2 linked regions of the Homo sapiens genome follow. The protein of the gene in region 1 interacts with the protein of each later gene in a biochemical or structural test. Each region holds a gene or a part of one and is shown in the gene's direction. Other genes may lie near its edges. The genes, in order: TP53INP1 and HIPK2.

Region 1 (12,613 bases):
GCAGGGCTTGGCTCAGAACTCACCTTCTGGAGAGGCCTTCCTTGACCCCCCAGCTTATATAGCACTTGCCCAAACGCTGGAAAACCCAGCACACTCAGGTTACTCTTATGACCTTTTAATAAGCTCTTACTATAGTGCCAAGCATTGTATTAAATGCTTACATGCATTATCTCATTAACCTCGGAACCACTGAAGGAGGCATTCTAATCATCCCCATTTTATGCAACAGGAAATGGAGGCTAAGAGAGGTCAAGCCTAAAGTCATTCAGCTTGCACTAAGGTCTGATTCTAGAATTAGGGCTCTTAACCATTAGATTCAGCTGATTCAGCTGCTTCTCACTTTAAATTCTGTTCTGAGTTATGGATTATATGGCTTCCAGGAGTTTAATTTACAGGACTGATTGGTTTCTATTGCACTTGTGTTTGAGCAGGTAAAGTAACTCAGGTGTATCAGTGTGTGCTAGGGAGGGACTTCTTTTCCAAACTATGGTTTTAAACATTCACATAATACAAAATGCAGGTTAGGTAGGCACAAATTCAAGCATAGGTCAAGACCACCTCTGTGGTTTCTACTTATAGACTTATTAAAGAAGATGAAGATATTTTGCTGTTGACTTTATGGTTTGAGGGGGCTCAAGTTCTCAGAAGTTATTAAAGCTTTTAAGCATTTTTCCTTTTATTTTCTTTTAAAATCCTATTTCCTTTTAATCTATTTGGGGTTCAAAAAAGGGAAATAGATAAATAAATAACATCCTATTTCCACATGGTGATTAGAGACAAAATACTTCAAATGAGAAGCACTATAGTTTGAACGTGTTCCCCAAAGTTCATGTGTTAAAAACTAAATCCCCAATGCAACAGTGTTGACAGGTGGACCTTTAAGAGGTGATTAGGTCATGAGGGCTCTGCCTCATAAATGGATTAATGCTGTTATCCCAGGAGTGGGTTAGTTATCACAGGAGTGGATGCCTGATAAAAAGGATGAGTTTGACCCCCTTCCTCTCATGTGTGTGCACGTTTTCTTGCCTTTCTGTGGGTCTGTCGACCTTGGATTTGGCAGACTCCACAACTGTAAGAAATAAATCTCTGTTCTTTATGAGTTACCCATTCTCAGGTATTCTGTTATAGCAACACAAAATGAACTAGGACAAGAAGGGTCTATGTGCTGGTAAGAACACACACTTACCAAAGACCTACATGTGCCAGGCACCTTTCTGCCTTTATTGTCTCTCCGAGCTGGTATTATTGTCCCTCTTTTACAGGTGAGGAAACTGAGGCACTTAGAAGATAAGCAACTGTCCCCATTCCAGAGCAGGAACTCCATAATTATCTGTTCTTTCCTTCCTTACCAGACAGCACAGAGTGTATTTATCTCCAGGATGCAACAGAATTGATTACCTGAGGCCCATTCTGTGAGACCTGTTCTCAGGGCTCTACAATTTAGTTCCAGGTTATAATAATAAACACAAAAAGTGACTTCTCAGAGATCTGTGGGCCTTTCTGGAAGTGTTGGAAAAGCCAAAAAGACAGCAAAACAATTCAAAGTTCTACGGCTCTTCAGCTTATAAACCTATGGGTCTGGTCAGGTCACCATCAGATACCAGATCATGCCAAATCCTCAGTTACACTGTGTAGCCTGAGAACAGCACTGCTCTTAAGCACAGCAAAGACTCTTCTACCTCAGGCCTTTGCACTTGCTCTTCCTGCTCCTGGACCACTCTTCTATGCCCTTTGGTTCTCAATGCTCAAATGCCACCTCCTCAGAGAGGCCCTCCTGACCACACTACCTCCCCACCAACTTCTCTCTAACCCTTTACCCAGCTTATCTTTCTTCACAGCACCCACTAAATTATATATTTACTTGTTTATTGTATCTCCTCTACTAGATGGAAGGTTCTTGAGGGCCAAGACTTTTCTGTTTTGTTCACTGCTGTATCCCTGGTGCCTGGCATAGAGTAAGTGCTCATTAAATAACTGTTAAATAGGTCAGGTGTGGTGGTTCATGCCTGTAATCCCAGCACTTTGGGAGGCTGAGGCGGGCGGATCATGAGGTCAAGAGATCAAGACCATCCTGGCCAACATGGTGAAACCCTGTCTCTACTAAAAACACGAAAATTAGCTGGGCTTGGTGGCACACGCCTGTAGTCCCAGCTACTTGGGAGGCTGAGGCAGGAGAATCTCTTGAACCCGGGGGGCGGAGGTTGTAATGAGTGGAGATCACGCCACTGCACTCCAGCCTGGCGACGAAGCGAGATTCCATCTCAAACAAAAAACAAAACAAAAAAATTCATCTTGCAAAATGTAATGGATATTTAAGAGAAATAAATGCCTACTCCTATCAAAGAGGAATAAAGCAGGAAAAGAGGCCCCGAAAGGATACTATAGAAATAAAAAACCTTGCCTTGGATGATCAAAACGTTTAGGCCTGGCTTTGCCAAAGCCATGAGAAACATGGACATTTAAAAGCATAAATTCATCTTGCAAAATGAAATGGATATTTAAGGTAGTTCATTCATGCAAAAAGAAAAAAAAAAGAATCCAATAAACGAGTTTTCCTTAAATAGGTAGATTATTTAGGCAGTGTGTGGCTTATGTAAGTAGTAACCATATCATCTGCATCCTTTTGAGAAGAGCAGAAAGGCACTTGCACTCATGCTGTCACCCTAACAAAGCAATTCATGATTACAGACCCACCTCAGGTTGCCTCTGGCATATGCGGACTGTTGGGCAGTGCCCAGAAGTATCAGTGTGAGTGAAGAAGTCGCTTTGGCAGCGGGAGTTACAAAAGCCCTTTGCTCACACACTTCAACTAATCTCTGACAACCGCCCCAAGAACGAGTCACATCTGCCCCACACAGTGCGCCTCTTCAAGCTTCATGGCTCCTTGGAGCTAGGGTGGTGTATGAAGGGCCATTCTGTATCATGTCTCTAGACCATATCCAGTAAGGGATGACCTTGCTTTCTGCTCAAAGGTTTTTTTTTTGTTTTTTTTTTTCTTGAGATGGAGTTTCCGTCTTGTTGCCCAGGCTGGAGTGCAATGGTGCGATCTCGGCTCATGCAACCTCCGCCTCCCCGGTTCAAGCGATTCTCCTGCCTCAGCTTCCCGAGTAGCTGGGATTACAGGAATGCACCACCATGACCAGCTAATTTTGTATTTTTAGTAGAGACGGGGTTTCTCCATGTTGGTCAGGCTGGTCTTGAACTCCCGACCTCAGGTGATCCACCTGCCTCGGCCTCCCAAAGTGCTGGGATTACAGGCGTAAGCCACCGTGCCCAGCCTCTGCTCTAAGTTTTAACATAAATAATTGGGTTACCTGTACATTCAGCCAGAAACTAAGAAGCCTTGAAAGTACTTTCCAGAAACTAGAGAAAATACTCTAGGCCTGAAGCGATCATTAGTTACAATCCAGCGCAGGCTATCCCACCTCTTGGGGACTCCCCCCTAGCACTGGTTACTGAATGAAGGGGGCCCGCCTCCTTTTTCCTTTCTGCTGCCTCAGCCAGCACACAGACCCTTTTTATTTTAAGGATTTTATTTCTAATCACCACGTGGAAATAGGGTTAAACAAAAAGACAAACATACAAAAGTCACAAAGGTTGCAGGGTCTTGAAAAGCTATTACACTTATGGCCCTGGAATAATTCTTGACTCCTTTCTGAGATGGTAACTGGCAGCCCAGTTAAACGCCTGTTTTCTGTTTTTATTTCAGAAAGCAGAAATCACAGAATCTCTTGCTTCTTTGTTCCAGGCTTTCTGGAGACCCAGTCAGATCCTTTCTTCCCTTAAGACAATAGATGTCACTGGAATGCTAAGTGATTGTTTATCTAAAATGCAATTTAAAAAAATTCTTGTCTTTCCCAGACACTTGGCAACATGCTGTGTCCATGGTAGAAGCCCAGCAGATCCTAACTGTTGATGGGTAGATAGAAAACGACCTAAGTGGACTTCACTTTGCCATTCTCCTCAGTACAGACAGAACAACTTGTTGCTTTGTGTTCTGAGGCTGCCCCAAGTAGCCATCCTATGGGTTGGTAGGAAACAACATTCTTTAGCAGCCTCGATGCAACTGGCAGGGTTATGGCCACAGCCTGCTTTCATAAGCAGGAGGCAGAGGCATTAGTTGCATTGTATCTGTTTGTTGGTGTGAATGTGGTCCTGCACTGTGAGTCTTCCAAACAAAACTTGAGGTTGAATCCCTTTTGTTAGGGTAGATAAGGGAGCGTATTGAGCTCCATGGAAAACAGACAGGAGAACTCTGACAGATGGGGAAAGGGTCACCCCCACAGCAGGGGGTCAGCCTGGAAGTGGGTACTATAGCAACACGCTAAGAATTATTCTGTGAATTAAAGGATGGTTGGATTCACTGGATCTGCCCAGGCAGGGAACCTGGCTGGGTCTTTGTCAGTGAACAGATGAAAAGCTTGCTTGCATTTGTGTAATTTGACAGTTTGGTTGTGTTCAGACAGCTCTACGCTATGGAGATGACATTACTCCTGAGTTTCACTGCATGCATTTATGTAAACCAGTGGCATACCAGGAAGGGAGGCAGTGGGAGTGATCCACCCCAGATACAGGCAGTACACAGTAAATTTGTGTGTCTGCAAAGAATTTTAAAATAAAATTGACTAAAAGTCAGTTTGCTTTTTATTATTATGCTCCAACAGTTCCAAACAATGTCGTGGTAAAGTACTCCTCCCTCCTAGGGACAGACTTCACCTATGCTGCCCTGAGGCACGCCCTCCTTGGTGCACCACTGGGAATAAACAAGCACCAGGTGGGAAGATTATAAATCAGCAAGAGAGTAAACAGAAAGCAAGTGACTCCTGAGACAAGATGTTTTCATCACAAACACTATTTGGTAGAGTTTAGAGTCACTGATCTGTGATGGGCATTTCTGTTAGCTTTGTGTTTTGGTTATCGCTGCTTTAAAAACTACCCCAACATTTAGTGCCTTAAAACAATGATCATTTATTTGTTCACAATGCCGTCATTTTGGCAGTGCTCCGTGGGGATGGCTTATCTCTCCTCTGTTCAGTATGGTGTCTGCTGGAGCTGGAACTTCCTAAGGGCTTTTCCACTCATGTGTCTGGTAGCTCAGCTGGGATGAGCTGAAGAGCTAGAGCTGGCCAGGCATCTCTTTCTTTTCACATAGCCTCTCCCTGTGGCTAGCAGGGTGGTCTCTCCTCATGGGTGGCTGGCATTTTCCAGAGTACAAAGCAGAAGCTGTGGGGTTTGCTTAATGCTTTTGCTTAATGACGAGGCTTGGAAGTCCTAGAACATTCTTTCTGCCACATTCTATTGGTCAGAGCAATCACAGGGTCAGCCCAGATTCAAAGGGAAGAAAAATACACCCACTTCATGATGGAGATACTGTTGTGGTCATCTTTGGAAAAATGATCTACTTCATATTGAATTTTTCTATCATAACAAGATGATGATTTCACATGTTGCTTTAACCATGATAAACCTTATCAAACTGGAAAAAGGTAGGCCTTTTTCTTTTTAAAAATTAGCCCCTTGTAATTGTCATCATACCTTGGTTCTGAATGTGGAGATGGCCTCTTCAATGGATTCCTAGGGAGAAACAAGAGATCATGGGGCTCCTACCATAGCATGTGGGAGAAAATATTAGAACAAGCCTGATTTGCAAAAACCTAAAATCCAAAGCATGTTCAAGTCTGTGAGACTATCTAGAACACAGTTTTAGCTCTTTCTCCCAAGATAAGGTCCAATGACCATCATATTTTGATCATTACTCCTTGGTGTCTGACAACTCCCTGCACTGCAATTTACATCCTTTAAAACCAGCATTGTTGGAAATGGACTGACTACATTGTGAGGGTCAGAATGTGAGTGTCTTTCAGATACTGTAATGTGTGATAGGCATCCCTCCAGGGTTGCTATACAGCTCACCCCAGGTCAAAGAACTACATCCCAGTCCAAACAGTATCCACATGAGAGCTGATAGGCATCAACGTTACTCACCTGCCTTTGCCAGACAGTTAATCCACCTATATGTGGGACAGAGCCTTGGTCTGGAAAACACTTTCAAGCCCACTGTCTCACTCTCTTGTCACTATAAATAACCTGGTGAGTTGGCAGTCCCGGCGTGAATGCCCACAATTTGCAGGTATGCAAACAGAACAGAGGGGCTAAGTTCCGTGGGTCACATGAGAGCTAGGCTGCAGCGCCTGGGGAGGCGGCCGTTCCCGCCCGGTGCGCTTGTTGTCCGCTGGAGCAGAGGCCCCCGAGCCTGCTGACCTCTCTGCCTTCAGGCCTGGTCTCGCAGTCCCTTGTGCCTCGCCTATAGGCAGGCGGAATCCAGAGCGTGCAGCAAGCCCGGCCGGCTCTCGGTGGCGGTTTCTACAGCAGGTGGGGCCTGGCTCCGTGATTGAGCGGCCTCTACCCCTCTATCTGGGGCCCAGCAGCGGCCCCCTCCCAGCACCCTGGCTACACGTCTAACCCTAGGCTGACCAGGTGGGGCTCTCGGAGGCGTTAGCCCCAGCCCTCCCAGGAGTCTTAATGTTCCTCTCACAGGAAAAAACGTTCTGCGCCCTTTGTGCCCCAAACCCTCGACCCTTCACTCGGCGAGAGGGGTCGCTGAGGGAGAGATCCACCTCTGCCCTTCCCGTTGCCCGCCGGTTCTTCCTCGCCCGCCTCTTACGCACCCCGCTCCCGCCGGCTCCTGGAAAGCCGGCCCCGGCCCCAGCGCTTCCCTCCCCGGCCTAGCCCCTCTCTCCCACCCTTCCGCTCGCCCAGGCCTTCACGCTCAGCTCCCGGTTTTTGTTGCCCGGGCTTGTTTCGGAGCTGAGCGCGCCGCCGGCCGGGCGCCAGGTCACGTGCGTTGGTGACAACCTCTCGCAGGGCGGCCCCGGGGCCCCCGCACCGCCGATTGGTGGGGCCCGGCCTGGCGCGGCCCGGGGCGGGGCAGCGGGGCCCGACGGCGAGCGGAGCGGCCGATCAGCTGTTGCGAGCGCTGCACAACAACAAAAGGACTTGGACTGGCCGGCCTGGGCGCAGCGACCCGAGGGCTGGAGCCGGCCCCGCGCCTGCCGTCTGGGTACCTGAACGAGGTGCAGCGCAGCCCGGCCCCACCGCAGCTACCTCAGCAGTCCCGCCCCGCCCGCGTCCTTCCCCGCCGAGCCGGCGGCCGCTCCCTTCCCCGCGCAGCCCCGCACGGCCCGGGCCCACGTAAGTGCCGGGGGGGGGCGGGCGGGCGTCCGTCCAGGGCCGCCTCGCTGCCGGTTGGGGCCGCAGCGCTGCCCGCTCCTGAGCCCGGCGGGGCCGGCCGCGCGCCCTGCCTTCGGGGCGCCGGTTGCGCGTTCACCGAGCCCCCTCGCTGCCTCCCCTCGCCGCCGCCGGGCCCGGCCGCCCACCCAGTGGGTCGGTCCTCGGCGGCCCCCGGGGCCCAGGGCGCGGACAGAGGCTGACAGAGGCGGCGGCGGCGCGGACAAGGGCCCGGCCTGGCCCCGGCGCTGGGCGGCGGTTGGGAGTTTGGTCTCTGCCTCCTCCCCCGAGCGTGGCTTGTTTTCTTGGCCGCGGCGGGACCTCCTCCTCTCACCCCTCCTCACTCCCCTCCACTCCTCCTCCTCCGCCTGCTCTCGGCCGTTGGATGGGGCCGCCCCTTCGGGACTCGGCGTCGGGGCTCCCGCGGCCACCCCCGGGACGCATCTCCGAAGACAGCGGCGCTTGGGCTTGTGGCCCGGCGCTCTGTCCCCGCCCTGCGATCCCGTCCCCTGCGCCTGCCCTCCGAGTTCCGGAGGCCCTGCGGCTATGGGGAACCTGCTCCGTGACCCGGCCACCGGCCCCCGCCTGTCCGCGGCCTGTCCCTTGCTTGACCTGGCTTGAACTCAGTCTTCGCTACCTGACTTTGCACCTGTGGAAAGAGCGCTCTCCTTGGCCCTTAACATTTAGATCCTTTGGATCGCTCACGCTTACTGAGCGCTGAGTATGTGCCATATACTATGCTGGGGGCTTTGCTTTATCGCCCCAGTTGATTCTCATAATAACCTTATATGAAATAGGCCCGGCTATCTTACACATAGGAAACCCGAGGCACAGAGAGATTAAGTTGCTCAAGGCCACACAGCCAATTAATAAAAGGAAATGGTGTTTGTATTTCAAAGTGGCAGCTGAATTTTACCTGGAGAGTCTGTTTTGCTTGTATTTTCTGATTATATCTGCTCAGTAGGTTAATTCCAATACAGAGTGGATTAAGGAAGAGCCTCTTTACAACTGTGACTCCCAAGGACTTGGGCATCTATTGCTAAAAAAGCCTTTTCTCAATGCACAATAGTTTTGGGAAAAGGGGGAACAATGTGACCCTTGGGGTCACTGAACAGAAGTCATAATGAGTTCCCCCACGATACTGAAATCACCAGCCTGGTAATTGAAATACATTTTCATTTGCAGATGTGAAAAGCACTGGGAAGCTTTTAAGTCGCAATCAGTGTAATTCTGAACTGGCAGCATAATTTTAAAAGGCCCCTGCCTGGAACCAGGACCTTACTAATTTCTGTGACCAAGGTCTTGTTTTCTCATCCTATCTTTTGTTCTTTCCTGCCATTGCTTCCTCTGATGTCTGCTTTCAAAATTCAAGATTATCAGGCTATGAATTACCACTTACTCTTGTCTTTGTCCACTGTCTTTCAGCCTTAGGGGCAGACAGGGGTGGATCCCTGGGGGAATAACCTCCCTTGCACACTAGTTGAACAGTCTTCACATAAGTGGAACAAGCAAAGACAACTTTTTTGGCTTGGTTTTTTCTGCAGTTCAAAATCCATTTTAAATTACTTGAATCTAGTCTTCATATAAGTGGAACAAGCAGAGATAACTTTCTTGGCTTGGTTTTTCTCCAGTTCAAAACCCATTTTAAATTACTAGAATCTGCACGTTTTTAAAGTAGTGGAAGAGGGTGGGATAAAAAGAAGGATAATTCTGAAGCTGCTTTTCAATGACGGTACGTTTAGCCACCTGATTTCCTGAAACTGTGAAGGAGCCACAACTGTACACAGATTTAGAAGTTAGATCATCAAACTTGCGGGTTTTTTTTTTTTTTTTAATATTTTTTGGAGCCGCCTACTGGCAGCTGAAACTAACTGAAAAGGGCTGTTTTCTGAAGTTCGTAGACCCATAGTTGAGACTGGGAGCCTAAAAGAGCATGTATAGGGAAAACAAGGAATTGGAATCAGATGGATTTTTGCCCTAATGCTGACTCCACCCCAACCAACTCTGTCACTTTTGAACAAGTTAGTTAATTCCTCAGCCTCGGTTTCCTCATCAGTAAAATGGGACAAATAAGTACTTCAAGGCCCCGTTACATACAATAAGCATTCTGTAAATTGTAGCTCTAATTATTAAGTAGACATTTTATGGATAAAGAAACTCAAATGCAGCGATGCTAAATGACTTGTTGACAGTCTCACAACTGGCTTTGAATGAACCGAGGTCTGCTATTCTAAGTAGTATACACTTAATCCTTACACTGGCACTGTGAAGTAGGTATTATAACTATCATTCCCATGTTAAGGATGAGAAAACAGAGACACCAAGATGTTAGTAAATATCCTGAATTCACATAGGTTGCAAGTAGCAGAGCCAAGATTTCAAACTCCAGGGCCTGTCTTTTTTTTTTTTTTTTTTTTTTTTGAGACAGGGTCTTACTCTGTTGACCAGGCTGGAGTGTAGTGGTGGGATCACAACTCACTGCAGCTTCAAACTCATGGGCTCAAGCGATCCTCCTACCTCAGCCTCCCTGGTAGCTGGGACTACATGCACATACCACCACACCCAGCTAATTTATTTTTTGTAGAGATGGGGTCTTGCTTTGTTGCCCAGGCTGGTCTTGAACTCCTGGCTTAAAGTGATCCTCCTGCCTTGGCATCCCAAAGCACTGGGATTATAGACATGAGCCACTGCGCCCAGCCTCAGAGCCAGTCTTTAAGTACCACAATATACTGCCTCTTGGTGGGCTGTCTTAAAAGTGACAAAATAAATTATGCTAACAAGATCTTCCAAATTAGCAGTTCCTTTTCTAAGTGGTCAAACTAGAATGCTCTTCCCCGTGAGTATTAGACTCAGTCAGCCACCTTTCTCTGCCTACAAAGCATCTCTACTCATGTAATAATATGAAAACCATTGATGATAAAATGTTAAGTAACAGTGAGATACAAAACAGTGCATTCACAAGACTATAACTATGATAAAAAGAAGCCTTATGTGTAGAAGAAAAAAAAAAACAGAAGAAAAGGCACCAATGTGTTAAGTGGTGGGAACAAGGCAATGGAATAATACTTATTTTTCTTATTTTCTAGACTTTTTATAATGTGGTTTTGTTCAGTTTATAATTGAAAAGACATAATTTATTTTTTAAAGGGAGGGATGGAGGTCTTTTGAGCCAAGCAGAACAAGGACAAAGCTGCCTTCTTGAAATGCTAGGGCCCAGACACTTTGTTTCTTTTCTGTATTGAGGGGTTCTTTTCTCTTGTCGGGGAAACTGCTGGACTGACGCTGGTTAAAGCTGTTCAAAGAACAACAGCGCTACTTCACCTAACCTTCTTTGCTTCACCTCTTTGCTGAATTCCAGAACTGTATTTGTAAGTTTGTCCTCTTAGGACACATGCTTTCTCTGGAATTTTTATTTTCGTTCTATGATTGCCCTAGCATTGTGAATATTAGTGGTGATCTGGGGAGGAGAGGAGTCTAAAGCTCTACTTTTCCATTTACCTCCATGTAGAACCAGCCCAGTTGAGAGCCTCCATCCCTGGGCAGGAGCCAAGGTCAACAGTAGCAGTGACTGGGCAGGGACAGTCTCTGGGTCATCAGTAGGAGGGTAGGCCTTTAAGACTTTTTCTAGAACAGTCCTGTTCAACAGAAATAGATAATGTGAGCCACATGTATGTTTGAATTTTCTAGTAGCCATATTTAAAAAGGAAAAAGAAACTGGTGAAGTTAATTTTATTAATGTATTTAATATACTAAAATTATTTTTTCAACATGTAATCAATATAAAAACTGTTTTGCATTTTGGGGGGTACTAAGTCTTTGAAATACACTCTAGTGTGTACTTTACATATACAGCACATCTCAATTCAGATACAAAGTTTTCATTTGAAGTACTTGATCTATATTTAGACTTCGTAAAATTTATAGGTGAAAAAGTAGATTCATACCCTAACTGTTCCAAACATACTTGAAAGTTTTCAAAAAACTAAATTATCAGCTTTTAAGTTTAACTGGATTAAACTTAGTAAATGGATTAAATAGTAAAATGAAAAATGCAGTTTCTCGATGATACTAGTCACATTTCAAGTGTTCATGTGCACAGTGTGCCTGGTGGCTACCTCAGTGGACAGTTTTAGCAATGGGGGGAGGGTCTCTCCAATAGCTCCTTGCCTTTTGTGACACCTGCAGAAAGCAGGGCCAAAGGAATTTGGCTTTGCTAGTTAAACCAGCCTCACTTTTTTGTGCTAGAAGTTTGTGGGGAAAGAGAGTGACGAGGTGATTCAGCGCAGTCTCCCCATTTTCCCAACAGTGAGACTGAAGCTCAGAAGGGCCAATTTAGCTCCAGCCACCTGTAGTAGAGCCACAGCCAGAACTGCTGCTGTGGATGGCCAGGCCCCTTTAACCCTCCCCAGGAACTCCATTCTGTGTTCTTCCCACGGGTGTCAGCAGATGTGCCATGTAAACACCAGCAGTGGCTTGAGTGAGATGAAGGATGAGCTCCTCCCTCACTTGGCTGGGCTTCTGAGCACTCTGTCGCCCAAGGTTGGTTGTCCTTGCAGAGATATGGGACATCTGGAGGCAGCCTCTGACTTTGGGAAACCAAAAGAGCACTGACTTGTACTGCTCCCTAGAAAGCTCCTCCAGAGAAGCCTTTCCTGTATCTTACTTGCTACTTGCATATATTCCAGGCAGAAGCTGCCTTCCTGGGTTTGGACCTGTGGCCAGAGGGGGCAATTTGCATGTGGGAACCCAGCAGCTGTCACAACTGCAGTGGCCCCAGCAATGTTTTTTGGCCTTACAGCTGCCAGTTATCTGACCTGGGCCCCAGTGCCTTACTCTCATGCAGCATCACAGGTTGGGGACAAGGCATTCGTTCAGGACAAGCAAAGGTTCCCCTGTGTGGTTCTCCCCTCCCAGTGGCTTTAGCTGATTCAGGGCTAGAGTCCAGCACCATGCTCTGCAGAATTGGGCTTATTCTCTCAACTGGTTCAGCAGACACAGAATTGTACGTGGGGCCAATATCTGCCTCCACAATTTAAAATAAATGGAGGAAGGATTTTGAAAATATGTTTTTCCCTCTAAGCATGTATCCTCAAAAATCTTTATTTACATCAGACCTTATGATAACTTATTTTGGAATATAACTATCACACCACAGCAGGTCAAACAAACTACACTTTTCTTCTGATTGTTCTTACATAGAGCATAAAGCTGACTTTGAATTCTGCTACAGCTCCAGCCTTCATGATTTGGCCGTGCTGCTTTCCAGAAGGTTTCAGGAAGACTGGTTATGCAAGTGACACTTCCTGTTTACCTATTTTTAATAATTAGTGGCTGAAGAAGATGAATTGTGACCACAAAGTGTTCTAATGTTATTTATTTGAAATGT
Region 2 (12,704 bases), on another chromosome or scaffold:
TTGTTTCGGCATGAGAGACTTTGTCAGCTTTATGGTAATAAGGAATAATGTCTTACAAATAGTGGACTTTAATTCTTCTAACTATAGCATATATTTTAATGTCAGTTTTATAGGTGCTATTTTTCATTTGTCATATGCAATGAAGAGTTTATTATATATAGTTGTGTAATAGAAGTTGTTTTAAATTTTAATAAATTTGTTCTTCAGTGCTTTTTACTTATCACTTCTGTAGCAACCACATGAACTCGTGTCTGTGTAATTAACAAGCATGTAAGAACCCCATGCATATCTGAGATTCAGTGTTTATGACTTCAGCCTGTTTATGAGACAGAGTGGTATGGTAATAGGCATGCTACTTGTTAAAAGCTTTAGTTCTAGGTTATGGTGACTCCCTGTCCTTTAGTGAATGAAAATGTGGCCATTTTGACAGGTTTTATCTTGGGAGGCCACTAAGGCTTTTGTGGAAAAGTCTGGGTCAGGTCATTCCTGTAGGAGCAGGTGTGGTTATGGCAGATTTATCCTACCGTGACCTCCTGGGTTCCTCTTACTGCTCCCCATGGGCTCGAAACTTGCCCTCCCAAGTCCAGTAGTCCCCCTGGTCTCTCACCTAGAAGGAGTAAAATCCGCCTTCTCTTTCAAGAGCCAACTAGGAAGTGCAGAGATAACTTAAAAAGCAGTTGAGATTTTGCCATTGGATCAAACTGACAATGTGCATTAAGCCTCTGTTTTTCCTGAAAAGGATATTGACAAATGAGGCGGGAAGTAGCCTTGACTAGTCCAGAGGTCAATACAGAAAGAAATGAGAGGAGACATTTAGCTTTTACTTTCAAGTGGAAAAAAACATTGAGTCCCCCTCTGCACCCCCACTTTATTGTCCCTCACTTTAGGATCTGAATAAATAGAGAAGTAATACGTTGTGGGCTCAACTCTCTGAAAGCTAAACTAATAGGGAAGGTTTGTTCCAGAGAAATACTCTCAAGGAGAAATGTTTGGAAATAAGTGTGTTGCCATAAGATTATTTTAAGATTAAGCTACAAAACCACCAGCAGTGTCTTATTCCTTATGAAGGTATTTCAGGGATTTAAAAAAGTATTACTGTTAAAGACTTTAACTATATCTTGTTGGAGCATTTTGCTGCCTGAAGCAAAGTGGCCTCTGCTACAGAACAAAGGTAACACGTCTGCACTGAGCGTTGGGTCCAGTCATTGGAATAGCGGCTGTTGACTTCATAAAGGGGCAGCAGGGGCCACACCAGGCCAGGCCGGAGTCTGAGGCAGCCGGCTGTGGTGCAGGGTGTTTCCAGCCATGTAGGCCTCCTGTCTGATCCTGGGCATCTGTCATCAGAGGCAGCCAGTGATGATTTCCACAATTTTATGACCCTTGGCTGTCATCCCAATAACAAATAAGTCATAAGCCACCCTCTTCCCCTCTGTAAAATTCCACTTCTGCACCGTGGACGGCCTTTCCACCAAGATCTTTTTGAAACAGTGAAAACAGAGACTAGCACCTCACCTTCTTTATGTATGAACAGCGTATTTCTGCTGTCGCTCTCTCTGACCGCCCCCTTCCGGGTACTTAAAGACTGAAAAATAAGCAGCAGGCTTGACACGAAAGGATGAAGGAAATGGCTGTTTTGCTTTGACTCTTCAGTGGCTAAGTTACTGAAAGCCAAGTAATTGGTCATTTCTATATTGTATACAACATCTAGAACAATATGGATATTCACTTGATACTGATAAATAGGGAATAGCCATATTCTGTGTTGTTCTAGAATAAGGGGGATGTTGACTTAGAATAAGGGGGATGTTGACTTGAACAAAAAGAACAGTGGGAAGAAACGGGTGAAGTACGGATTCTGAATAAGCAAGCCAGAATAGTCTTGTCAGGCACGAGGATTCCTACAGACGTGCAGTCACAGTGCGTAGATGGAGGTCGGAGCTCAGGATTGAAGCAAGAAGGGAACACCCTCCAGCAGATCCATGGGCCCAGGGTGGAGGTGGGGCTCCAATCAGGTGCTGGATGTTAGCAGAACTGCCCCTAGGAAGTCAGAGCTGAAGTCAGATGGTACATATGGTAAGTGCTGTAGGAACAGTGAGTTGGGAATGATCACTGGGTTAGAGTGGTCTGGAAAGAGAAGGAATCTAAGCTGGCTGGTCTTTGGATAAGTTGAGAAAAGCAGCAAAGGCATGCCAGGTAAAGGAATAGTGTAAGAGTGTGAAGATAGGAAGTATAAGAGACATTCTAGAAACAGCGAATAGACCAGCTTCATTCAAGTTAAGGACCCAGGAAGGTTAGTAGAGCTGGAGCTAACAAGGTAGTTGGAATCAACATGTAAATGTATCGAGTTCTCAGCTTTATCTCCTTGACAGTAAGGAGCCAGTGGAAGTTTGGAGAGGGGAGTGGCATGCTCAGAGATGTTTTAGGAAGATTAATCTGGTAGCCAAATATAGGCAAATTAAAGGGAGACAGAGTGCTCAGGTAGATGAGATGTCTAGATTTGCTTTAGTCCTTCTAGAAAGTGATAAATACATTCACTGTGGAAGTGGCAGCAACAGCAGAAATAAAGAATTGGATGCAAGAGATGTTTTGAAGGAAGGAGAAATTAATAAGGCTTAGCACCTTCTTGTCTATGAATGTAAAGAAGAACCATCATAGTTCATAGTTTTGGAGCCAAGTGACTAGAACAGTCATGGAGATGTTAGGATAGAGGGTGAGATGGCTAGATTTTTAGGAAAAAATAAGGGGTTCAGCTTTGGAAGCGCATCTTTGACATTGTAGCAGGAGGCTGCAATATATCACTGTAACCTCTGAGGGAGAGCCCAGCCTGTGATAAACATGTGGGGGTCACCTACACAGAGGTGACGGCTTAAACTGCTTGAATGGATGATAGCTGCCAGAGAGAACAGAGTCAAAACGGTGGAAATGCCAACATTTGAAAGGAGGAAGAGGGCTGGGTGCGGTGGCTCACACCTGTAATACCAGCACTTTGGGAGGCTGAGGGGAGTGGATCACTTGAGATCAGGAGTTTGAGGCCAGCCTGGCCAACATGAAACCCCGTCTCTACTAAAAATATGAAAATTAGCTGGGCGTGGTGGCGCACACCTGTAGTCCCAGCTACTCAGGAGGCGGAGGTTGCAGTGAGCCGAGATAGCACCACTGCACTCCAGTCTGGGCGACAGAGCAAGACTCTGTCTCAAAAAATAATAATAATAAAATAAAGGAGGAAGAGGAACCACCCGAGCACACAGTGTGCAATCAGACACGGGATGGGGAGATTACAGATTCACTGAAGTCCAGAGAAGAGCATCAAGAAGGAAGTCGTGGTCAGCAGTATCAGATGTTGCAGAGGTTAAGAAGAACGGGCTGAAACAAGGCCATTGGATTAGGCAATTAGGAAGTCATTTACCTTCAAGAACAGGAGCCTATAGTGCATTAACGAGTTGGGGGAGATGGATTAAGATGTGGGCATTGAAGAAAAGGGAGCATAAACCATTGATCACAGGTGAGAGGAGGGAAAGAATTAAGAGGGGGGAATGCGGCTGTTACTCCTTTTGCCTTCCATGTTGGGAGTTTGTGTGTGCACGCACATGAAGGCAGAAGAAAAAGATGAGGTGACCGATTCATTTGGACAGCCATATTAAGTTCCTACTAAATACTTGGATCCAATTAAGTACAGGGAGAAATGGAAAGCTACAAGAGAAAGAACAGTGGTGGAAGCAGGTTCAAGAGAAAATGGGACAAATATGGATCATGAGAATCGGGAACTTTTTTAGTATTGGAAAAGAGCAACACCTCTTTCTCTCAGACTGGAGAGAAGGAATGAAGGATGGAGGATGATGTAGATTCAGGAATGTTCTGAAATGAAGAAGGAAATAAAGGAGGAAAGTAAGGCTGACCTCAGGCTTCTGGACAAAGTGGAAGTTGGGTCATCTACTGAGAGAGAAGGTGGACTAGGGTGATGGTTGATGGAGTGGAAAGGATTACCACTCTAGGTAATGCCAGGGGCTCAGAGAGACAGGAACACTAGGTTAGCCAACCCCCAACAGGGCTTGCAGAAGCTGCACTTCCTTGTGCTTCTGTGAGAAATGTTTGTTGATAGTGGCTTAGAAGATGGGCAATGTTTGTTACTCTTTTAACCTTTAAGGAGTTATCCTTCATCACCTTATTATTTTTGCTTAATATATTTTCTATGAATTTTTGTTTCAGTATCACCGTAATTTGTACAAGTGTTCCAGAATAACGGTCTCATAGGTTTCTAAGTTTATCTAAATTGTGGATGAGATGTTGGTATGAAATAATAGTACTTCTGGCCAGACACGGTGGCTCACGTCTGTAATCCCAGCACTTTGGGAGGCTGAGGCGGGTGGATCACCTGAGGTCAGGAGTTTGAGACCAGGCTGGCCAACATGGTGAAACCCCATCCCTACTAAAAATTCAAAAATTAGTCGGGCGTGGTGGCAGGAACCTATAATCCCAGCCTTTGGAGGCTGAGGCAGGAGAATGGCTTGAAACCTGGGAGGCAGAGGTGGCAGTGAGCCGAGATCATGCCATTGCACTCCAGCCTGGGTGACAAGAGCGAGACTCGGTCTCAAAACAAAAACAAACAAACAAACAAAAAAAAACAAAAAGAAATAGTACTTTCTAGAGAAATGTATTGATATATGAATTTAGCAGGAAGCGTGAGTGAATGGAGCCATGAATTGTGCTACCCAGTCCCCACCAGTAAGGCTGATAAAATGTTTTATGCTGTTGAAATGAAAAACGTCAGACCAACTGCTGATCCACTAAACCCTACAGAATCGATGACAAAGATGCCAGCTGGTAATTAGGGTTCATCCAGGATCCAGAAGATCCTGAGTGGCCTGGTGATGGGGCCTGTGTGGGAAGATGTTTTCTCAAACCAGTAAACTTGACAGGGTCTGTGGACAAGGCTGAGCTGATGATGTGGGCAACGAAGTACGTGACAGCAGAGCCTCCTGAGTTTCAGTAGAAAGCAACCCAGGGAGAACTGAGGAAGAATCCATTTCTGTCACAAGTAATGTTTACAAAAAAAAATGGTGACCTATGTCCTGATATTGGAATTCTGTTTCTGAGTCTCAGCTGTGTTGCTGGCACCTAATGGTGGCAAGTGGCACCCTGGAACCACTTGGTTCCACAAACTCAGTGACCAGAATGTGCTTCTGGGTGGAAGAGATTCACTTTTTCAACCTTGTTTTCAAGTGGGAGGAATATATTCTGTATGGCCCAAGCCACAGATGAGAACTGAAGGGGATCTGTTGAGTTTACTTGTACCAAGGTGACTCCGATACTTACTTTTCGTTTTCCTTTCCTTGTAGGTATGGCCTCACATGTGCAAGTTTTCTCCCCTCACACCCTTCAATCAAGTGCCTTCTGTAGTGTGAAGAAACTGAAAATAGAGCCGAGTTCCAACTGGGACATGACTGGGTACGGCTCCCACAGCAAAGTGTATAGCCAGAGCAAGAACATCCCCCTGTCGCAGCCAGCCACCACAACCGTCAGCACCTCCTTGCCGGTCCCAAACCCAAGCCTACCTTACGAGCAGACCATCGTCTTCCCAGGAAGCACCGGGCACATCGTGGTCACCTCAGCAAGCAGCACTTCTGTCACCGGGCAAGTCCTCGGCGGACCACACAACCTAATGCGTCGAAGCACTGTGAGCCTCCTTGATACCTACCAAAAATGTGGACTCAAGCGTAAGAGCGAGGAGATCGAGAACACAAGCAGCGTGCAGATCATCGAGGAGCATCCACCCATGATTCAGAATAATGCAAGCGGGGCCACTGTCGCCACTGCCACCACGTCTACTGCCACCTCCAAAAACAGCGGCTCCAACAGCGAGGGCGACTATCAGCTGGTGCAGCATGAGGTGCTGTGCTCCATGACCAACACCTACGAGGTCTTAGAGTTCTTGGGCCGAGGGACGTTTGGGCAAGTGGTCAAGTGCTGGAAACGGGGCACCAATGAGATCGTAGCCATCAAGATCCTGAAGAACCACCCATCCTATGCCCGACAAGGTCAGATTGAAGTGAGCATCCTGGCCCGGTTGAGCACGGAGAGTGCCGATGACTATAACTTCGTCCGGGCCTACGAATGCTTCCAGCACAAGAACCACACGTGCTTGGTCTTCGAGATGTTGGAGCAGAACCTCTATGACTTTCTGAAGCAAAACAAGTTTAGCCCCTTGCCCCTCAAATACATTCGCCCAGTTCTCCAGCAGGTAGCCACAGCCCTGATGAAACTCAAAAGCCTAGGTCTTATCCACGCTGACCTCAAACCAGAAAACATCATGCTGGTGGATCCATCTAGACAACCATACAGAGTCAAGGTCATCGACTTTGGTTCAGCCAGCCACGTCTCCAAGGCTGTGTGCTCCACCTACTTGCAGTCCAGATATTACAGGTAAGACCGTCCACAAGGAGACAGGAGCTGCTGAATGCCCAGTGGCACTCACAGAGAATGTGCCACCTTAGTCACTGTGGGGAGATAAAATTATATGTCTACAGTTCCTGCCTTCAAGTGATCTTAATGTACTTACGAAATTAGGACATGTGCACATTGCGATGTCAATTAGAAGTCACATTAGAACGGAGCCAGGTAAGATCCGTGGCACAGGTGTTCAGCGTTGGAAGGGCTCCCTGGGACCTGGGGTGCAGAGCAGAAGAGTTCCGTCCTCCCGGATGGGTAGGATCCAGACAGGTGGTGGAGAGAGAGGGATGTGCCATCCACAGTCCGCAGTCACACTAGTGGGAATTTACAGGAGACAAGAAGGACACCCGCCTGGCCAGAACAGTTTGTGAGTGGTGGGAGATGTGAGTGAAAGCCTGGTTGGAACCAGGTCACTGGGGGTCTTAAATATCAGATCAAGGAATTGCAACTGTATCCTCAAACCCAGAGCAAGCCCTGGAAACCTTGAACAACATAAGGTAACGGGTTGAAAGGGATGTTCCGAGAAGGTTCCTTGTCTATCCACGTGCAGAAGGGCTGGAGGAAGGGAGAGACTAGTCTGGGGCCAGCTGGGTGGCTCCTGTGGTAAGGTGACTTCAGGCTTTGGGTCAGGATGAGGGAGGAATGATAGTGTCCGTGGCAGGGAAGTGTGTTCAGTCATGGACTCACACATGCAGTCATTCAACAAGCTTTGATTTCACTTTTAATATGTGCCAGCCGCAGTGCTAGGTATAGGGATATAGACAGGGCCCTTGCCATCCTGGGGTATCTGGAAGCTTTTCAGGGACCCCTGTATGCAGTCAGGATTGGAACCGCTGCCGACATGGAGCTGAGATCGGAGTGCTGGCTTTGGAGTCAGGAAAGGCCAGAGTGAACCTGGTCCCTCCTCTCCTAATGGCCTGATTTCTCCATGCCTTCATTTCCTAACCCATGAAGTGGGAGAAATCCTCTCACCAGCCTCGTGGGCAGCTGGGAGGTAACATGGCTGTAACATGGCTTAGGTGTGTCACTCCGTGGCTGGCCATGGCGGGTGCACAGCGGGGAGGCGGCAGGGATGGAAAGCAAGACCCTGCTCTGTGGAACCAGCCTGGGGGTGTGTTTGGGGTGGTGCCGAACAGTGCAGTGGAGATAGAGGTCACAAGAAACAAAACTGAAACTCCCATGAGAAGATGGGACGGATGCACATTTAAGAGCGTGCCACGTAGGCAGGAAGACCGGGGTCCCCGGAGGCCATCCTGCTTGCAAGCAAGCACGCTCGCTTGCCCGTGTGCTTTCTCCATGCGCCTTTCAAGGCCACAGAGAGAAGGCTGGAACATGCCCCAGGGCCTTGTCGACACAGCTGACCTGTCACCCATTCCTGGGGCTGACCTGGGCCAGCTTCCCCTTCTTGCTCCCTGTCCGGGCCCCCATCCTGGCTGCAGGCAGAGCTGTTGCAAGTCTCCTCCCAGCCCCTCCCTCAGCCTGCTGGGCACCAGGCCCTCCTTCCCTGGGAGAGCAACAGCCCCTCCGTTCGGATCCCCAGATGCCCTCCCACCTTCCACCCCGTCTCCTTTCATCCTAATCCTGACTCACACAGGAGGTTTCGAGGCCTCTTCACCCATGCTGTTTCTGTCTCTTCCCTCTTCCCTTTAGGAGGCATTTCCTGAGTTAGAACAGCTCTCTGCGAGCCTCTTCTCTGCCCTGCCCTGAGGATTCCTTTCCCGCTCATTTCCTATGCGCAGAAAGGTCTCCACAGGCCTGTGCTTTCACCACCAGGCCCCGTGCGGACAGACGGGTCTACTGCTGCCCCTCCACTTGCTCTCCACTCCCTCGTCCTGACCAGGCCATCCACTCTGTGCCCCGCTGGCCCCAGAGCCAATGGCAGGGAGAAGTAAGCCCAGGGCAGGAGCCTCCAAGGAAGACAAGAAGCCTCTCCTTGTCTCCAGAGGAGAAGGATGGGCAATGGTTGAGTGAATCTGGAGGGTTGGGTGCCCGGTACCGACAGCACATATTCTCTGTAGAGAGTGCCTGGGCCTCTGAAAGCCAGCTCTGGTGGCCGTCCCGGGTACCAGCCCCATTGGGGGCTAGCTGGTGCTGTGCTGGCTCTGGGAGGCTGCTGTGCCACTTCGTATTTAGGTTGGTAAATTCAGCATGCCAAAGGCTGGCTCTTTCTAGTTCTTGGCCTGAATTCAGGGTGAACAGCCCCTGACTTGGCTGCTAGGGCTTTTATGTAGTTCATCTGAATTGCTGCATCATGAACACGTACCAGTGTTATTAACATTCACTGAAAGCTAGCATGGCGACTTGTAAAAAGACTTCGACAAACTCTGTTTAAAAGGCAGCACATCCTTAGAGCGAAACTTGGTGAATCGAGTAAGCTGAATTGGGGATTCTTAAGACCCCCTTGTCATCTTGCCTTCTGGTGCCCATGTGACGCTTCCTGGAGCCCTCCCTGCCCATCCCCTTGGACTCTGCGAGTTTTTCTTTGCTTTCCTGCCTGGTGCTGGTGCCCCTAGTGCTGAGGAGACAGGTCGCAAAATCGGGGATCCTAGCTCAGGAAGCCTGCGGCAGCAGTAAAAGTTTGCCTGTGAGGGTTGGGGAGGGCTGACTCCTTCACCTGGACTCACAGCGATCCTCTCCTGCCCCCCTCTGTGGGTGAGATCAGGCCTTTTGGACGCCTCTGGTGGGTGTGGTAGGCTGGTTTGCTGGCGGTTCCTGGGCCCTCAGGAGCCCTCTTTTCCCCACTTCGTGACAGGCACAGTCACATCTGGCCCCTGTGTCCCCACATCCCTCTGAAGGACCCTCCGTTTAGTTGTGATAGTACCCTCTTTTCACCCCTGAAATCACCATTGCCTAAAATTCTGAGCAAGAAGGCCTCTTTCTCCTTTCTGTGGTCACCTTCAGGCCCTCATGTCAGCCTCCCTGTGCCCAGCCCTGGTTCCAAAAATACGGTCAGCAGGAAAGACAGCGGCTCTTCTGCCTGAAATGAGGCTTCATTTCTAAGTTGGTGCAATGTTCTGTTTCTCCCTCAGGCCTTGTCTGAGCCCTGCAGTGGTTTGCCACCATATAGATCGATCCGATTTTTCGAGGACAGTCTCTAGTGCTCTGTCTCTTTTCGTCCCAGCTGTGTGGGACAGCCAGCTCTAGGCCATGTTTATCAAGTTGATTTTCCTGGTGGCTTTGCCTCTTATAGGAAAGAAAGGGGGCAAGAAAAGCTCTTTAATTGTCCATCGTTAAGGCCCATGTCCCAGAAAGAAGACGCTTTCAGATGCTTTCAGCTGCATCTGCATCGTGAGGGAATGGCTGTGTGTTTGAGCCGCCTGGGCTGGAGGAGTCATTGCATGCTGTGCATCCAGCCTCCCAGCAGGTTGGCCTTTGTCCTGCAGGTGGTGGGTGGGGACTTTCTCCCCTCGGCCCCCTGTATCTGAGCTGGGCACATTATCGTCCCAGGACATCTGACTTTCAAAAGGTAGAGTACTTATGTGTCCCTCTGTCATTTTGCATGGGACTGGGCTAAGTGTCTCATCCCACCATTGTCCCCACCTAGTGACACAGAAACGGTGTGAGACAAGGATATGTTATCCTCGCCTTGGGGACTTGGAAAAGGAGGTGGTGTCCCCGGAGCCAACTGTTTTCCCCAGCTCTCAGGCATGTGCCTGGCCACAGTGGCTGTTGGTATTCTGTGAGGCAAGCCCACTGGTGTGTTTTTCAGGAAACAAAGGCTGCTTTTTAAGTTTTTTTCTCGAGTCTGAAGCAGGGGTATTCCCTTCCAATTCGAAGGTCAGTTATGTCATTAACTGTCAGCTGCCCAGGTTCTCAGGCTTTACTGTGCACAGGAATCTCCTGGAGAGGTTGCTGGGAACAGAGTCTCCCTGGGAGTACCCTGGGAGAAAGTCCACACCCACCACCACAGAGACTTGCCTCAGAGAACTGGAGGTGAGCCAGGCAGGGGGTCTTAGGACCAGTCTTTGAGAAACACTATTCTGAAGGACAGAGGGATTTTCTTAATGGTGTCACCTTTCAGGTGTTGACACCCAAAAGAACAGAGTTGCAGGTAATCCTTGCTTGTATTACTTCACCTTGGGCGCCCCTGCCCTTTTGTTATTTAATTCTACATTGATGCCAGTTCATTTTGTTTGTTTTTAGTTTTTTTGTTTTTTTTTTGAGCAAGCAATAAATTGGTACTGGGGTATTTCCATTATCAGCAGAACCAGTAAACTACAAATAAGACCAAATGTTAAACTCCACTCTCAGAAAAAAACACAAACAAAAAGACATGCCATTCAGGCAAAGGGTAATCAGTGATTAAAATATATAGATTTTTTTTGGTTTCTACTCTGGATTATTCAAAATATTCTTGTCTAGAGTTTTTTGAAACACGTAGGACTGTTACCAGGACCCAAAAATTGAACATAAAAAATTAGGACATGAAAAATAGCAAATAATCCACTTTTTCAGAATAATCTAACCTTTTTTTTTTGAGACGGAGTCTTGCTCTGTCTCCCAGACTGGAGTGCAGTGGTGCGATCTCGACTCACTGCAAACTCCGCCTCCCAGGTTCACCCCATTCTTCTGCTTCAGCCTCCTGAGTAGCTGGGACTACAGGCGCCCATGACCACGCCTGGCTAATTTTTTTGTATTTTTAGTAGAGATGGGGTTTCACTGTATTAGCCAGGATGATCTCAATCTCCTGACCTTGTGATCCGCCTGCCTTGGCCTCCCAAAGTGCTGGGATTACAGGCGTGAGCCACCACGCCCAGCCTTTTTTTTTTGTCTGATTCTTTGGGGTGCAAAGACTGTCTTCAAGTTGATTTCATGGTGGTTTTAGGTGGGGGTGTGTATTATTCCATTCTTGCATTGCCATAAAGAGCTACCTATGACTGGGTAATTTATTAAAAAAAAAAAGGTTTAATTGACTCACAGTTCTGCGGGGTGTATAGGAAGCATGGCTGGGAGGCCTCAGGAAACTTACAATCATGGAGGAAGGTGAAGGGGAAGCAGGCACATCTTATATGGCTGGAGAAGGAGAAAGAGAGAGGTGGGGTAGGTGCTACATGCTTTTAAACAACCAAATCTCGTGAGAACTCACAATCACAAGAACAGCAAGGGGGAAGTGTGCCCCCATGACTCAGTCATCTTTCACCAGGCCCCTCCTCCAACGTTGGAGATCACAATTCAACATGAGATTTGGGTAGGGACACAGATCCAAACCATATCAGGGTGGAGATTAATTTTCAGTTCAATTCATCAAACATTCATTACTGAGTGTCCCGTAGTAGATATGTGCTCCAGAGTGCAGAGGGTAAGGCATGATCCCTAATCTTGCAGAGTTCACAGTCTCTTTGAGGAGATGGAAAACACAAACCAACTGCCAAGACTGTCATTCTGATGCTTCAATATTTTAAATGTTTGGTCATTCAACAGAGATTTATTGTGAACCTACCTTCTGCCAGACTCTAGGGAAACAATGATGAGCAAAGCCAGTTCAAGAAATTAAAAGTCAGTGAAAGATTTTGCCAGATGGGTTAACAGGGAAGTTAACATGAGATAGGGATGGGGAAGTCTAGGGGTCATGGAGACTGGAATAAATAAGGGAAGATGGGAGAAATGATGGTGACTCCTTAGACAGTGACACCTGGCGGGAGTCGAAGGCCTGTACTGGAAAATAATAATCCGGTGAGTGAAGCCTGACAATAGAGAGTTTTGAATACAGGCTTGAGGGGCTTGGGTTGAGCCAAAGTGCCAGAGCTGGGAGCCATTGTAAATTCTGGAACAAAGGAGAAGTTTAATGAAAATTAATGATGGTATAAATCAATTGGAATGGCAAAGAAAAAAAAAAGTTGTGGGGATGTTTTGAGAGCCAGAGGCTAGGAGACAACTGTTGTTACTCAGGAATGAAGGGATGAGGCCCTAGATTATAATGGGGGGTTCTACCCCCCGATAGTATGAATGTGGACATTGTTAGTGCATTTAACTTTTCCGATGCTTTGATTGCAGAATTGACTTAGAGGGAATAGCTTTTTGTTTATTTTGCTTTCTTTTGTTTAATGACCTTGCTGTCTCTAAGGCTCAGTTCTGAAGCTCCAGTCTTTCAGAGCCTAGTTTCAAATCCCACCACTGCTATAAAGAAATAGGCTCTGAAAGGAGAAACCAGAGACCTTAGCACCAGTCCTAGCCCTGCCCCAAGCTGTGTTCCATTGAGTCACGGTCAGTAGAATGTCAGCTGTGACTGTCCACACTCCTCCATCTGGATCCCATTA

What was found.
Region 2: the proteins of TP53INP1 (region 1) and HIPK2 form a complex in vitro, tested with the Homo sapiens proteins (one study listed by BioGRID).

Annotation. Positions count from the first base shown.
Region 1 is NC_000008.11:94,943,732-94,956,344, reverse strand, and holds the start of TP53INP1 (tumor protein p53-inducible nuclear protein 1), read left to right. Parts: upstream 1-6,966; 5' UTR 6,967-7,191; intron 7,192-8,000; exon of another isoform or gene 8,001-10,862; intron 10,863-12,613. UniProt on the Homo sapiens protein: Antiproliferative and proapoptotic protein involved in cell stress response which acts as a dual regulator of transcription and autophagy. Acts as a positive regulator of autophagy.
Region 2 is NC_000007.14:139,709,648-139,722,351, reverse strand, and holds part of HIPK2 (homeodomain-interacting protein kinase 2), read left to right. Parts: exon of another isoform or gene 1-3,459; coding exon of another isoform or gene 3,460-3,502; intron 3,503-5,336; coding exon 5,337-6,420; intron 6,421-12,704.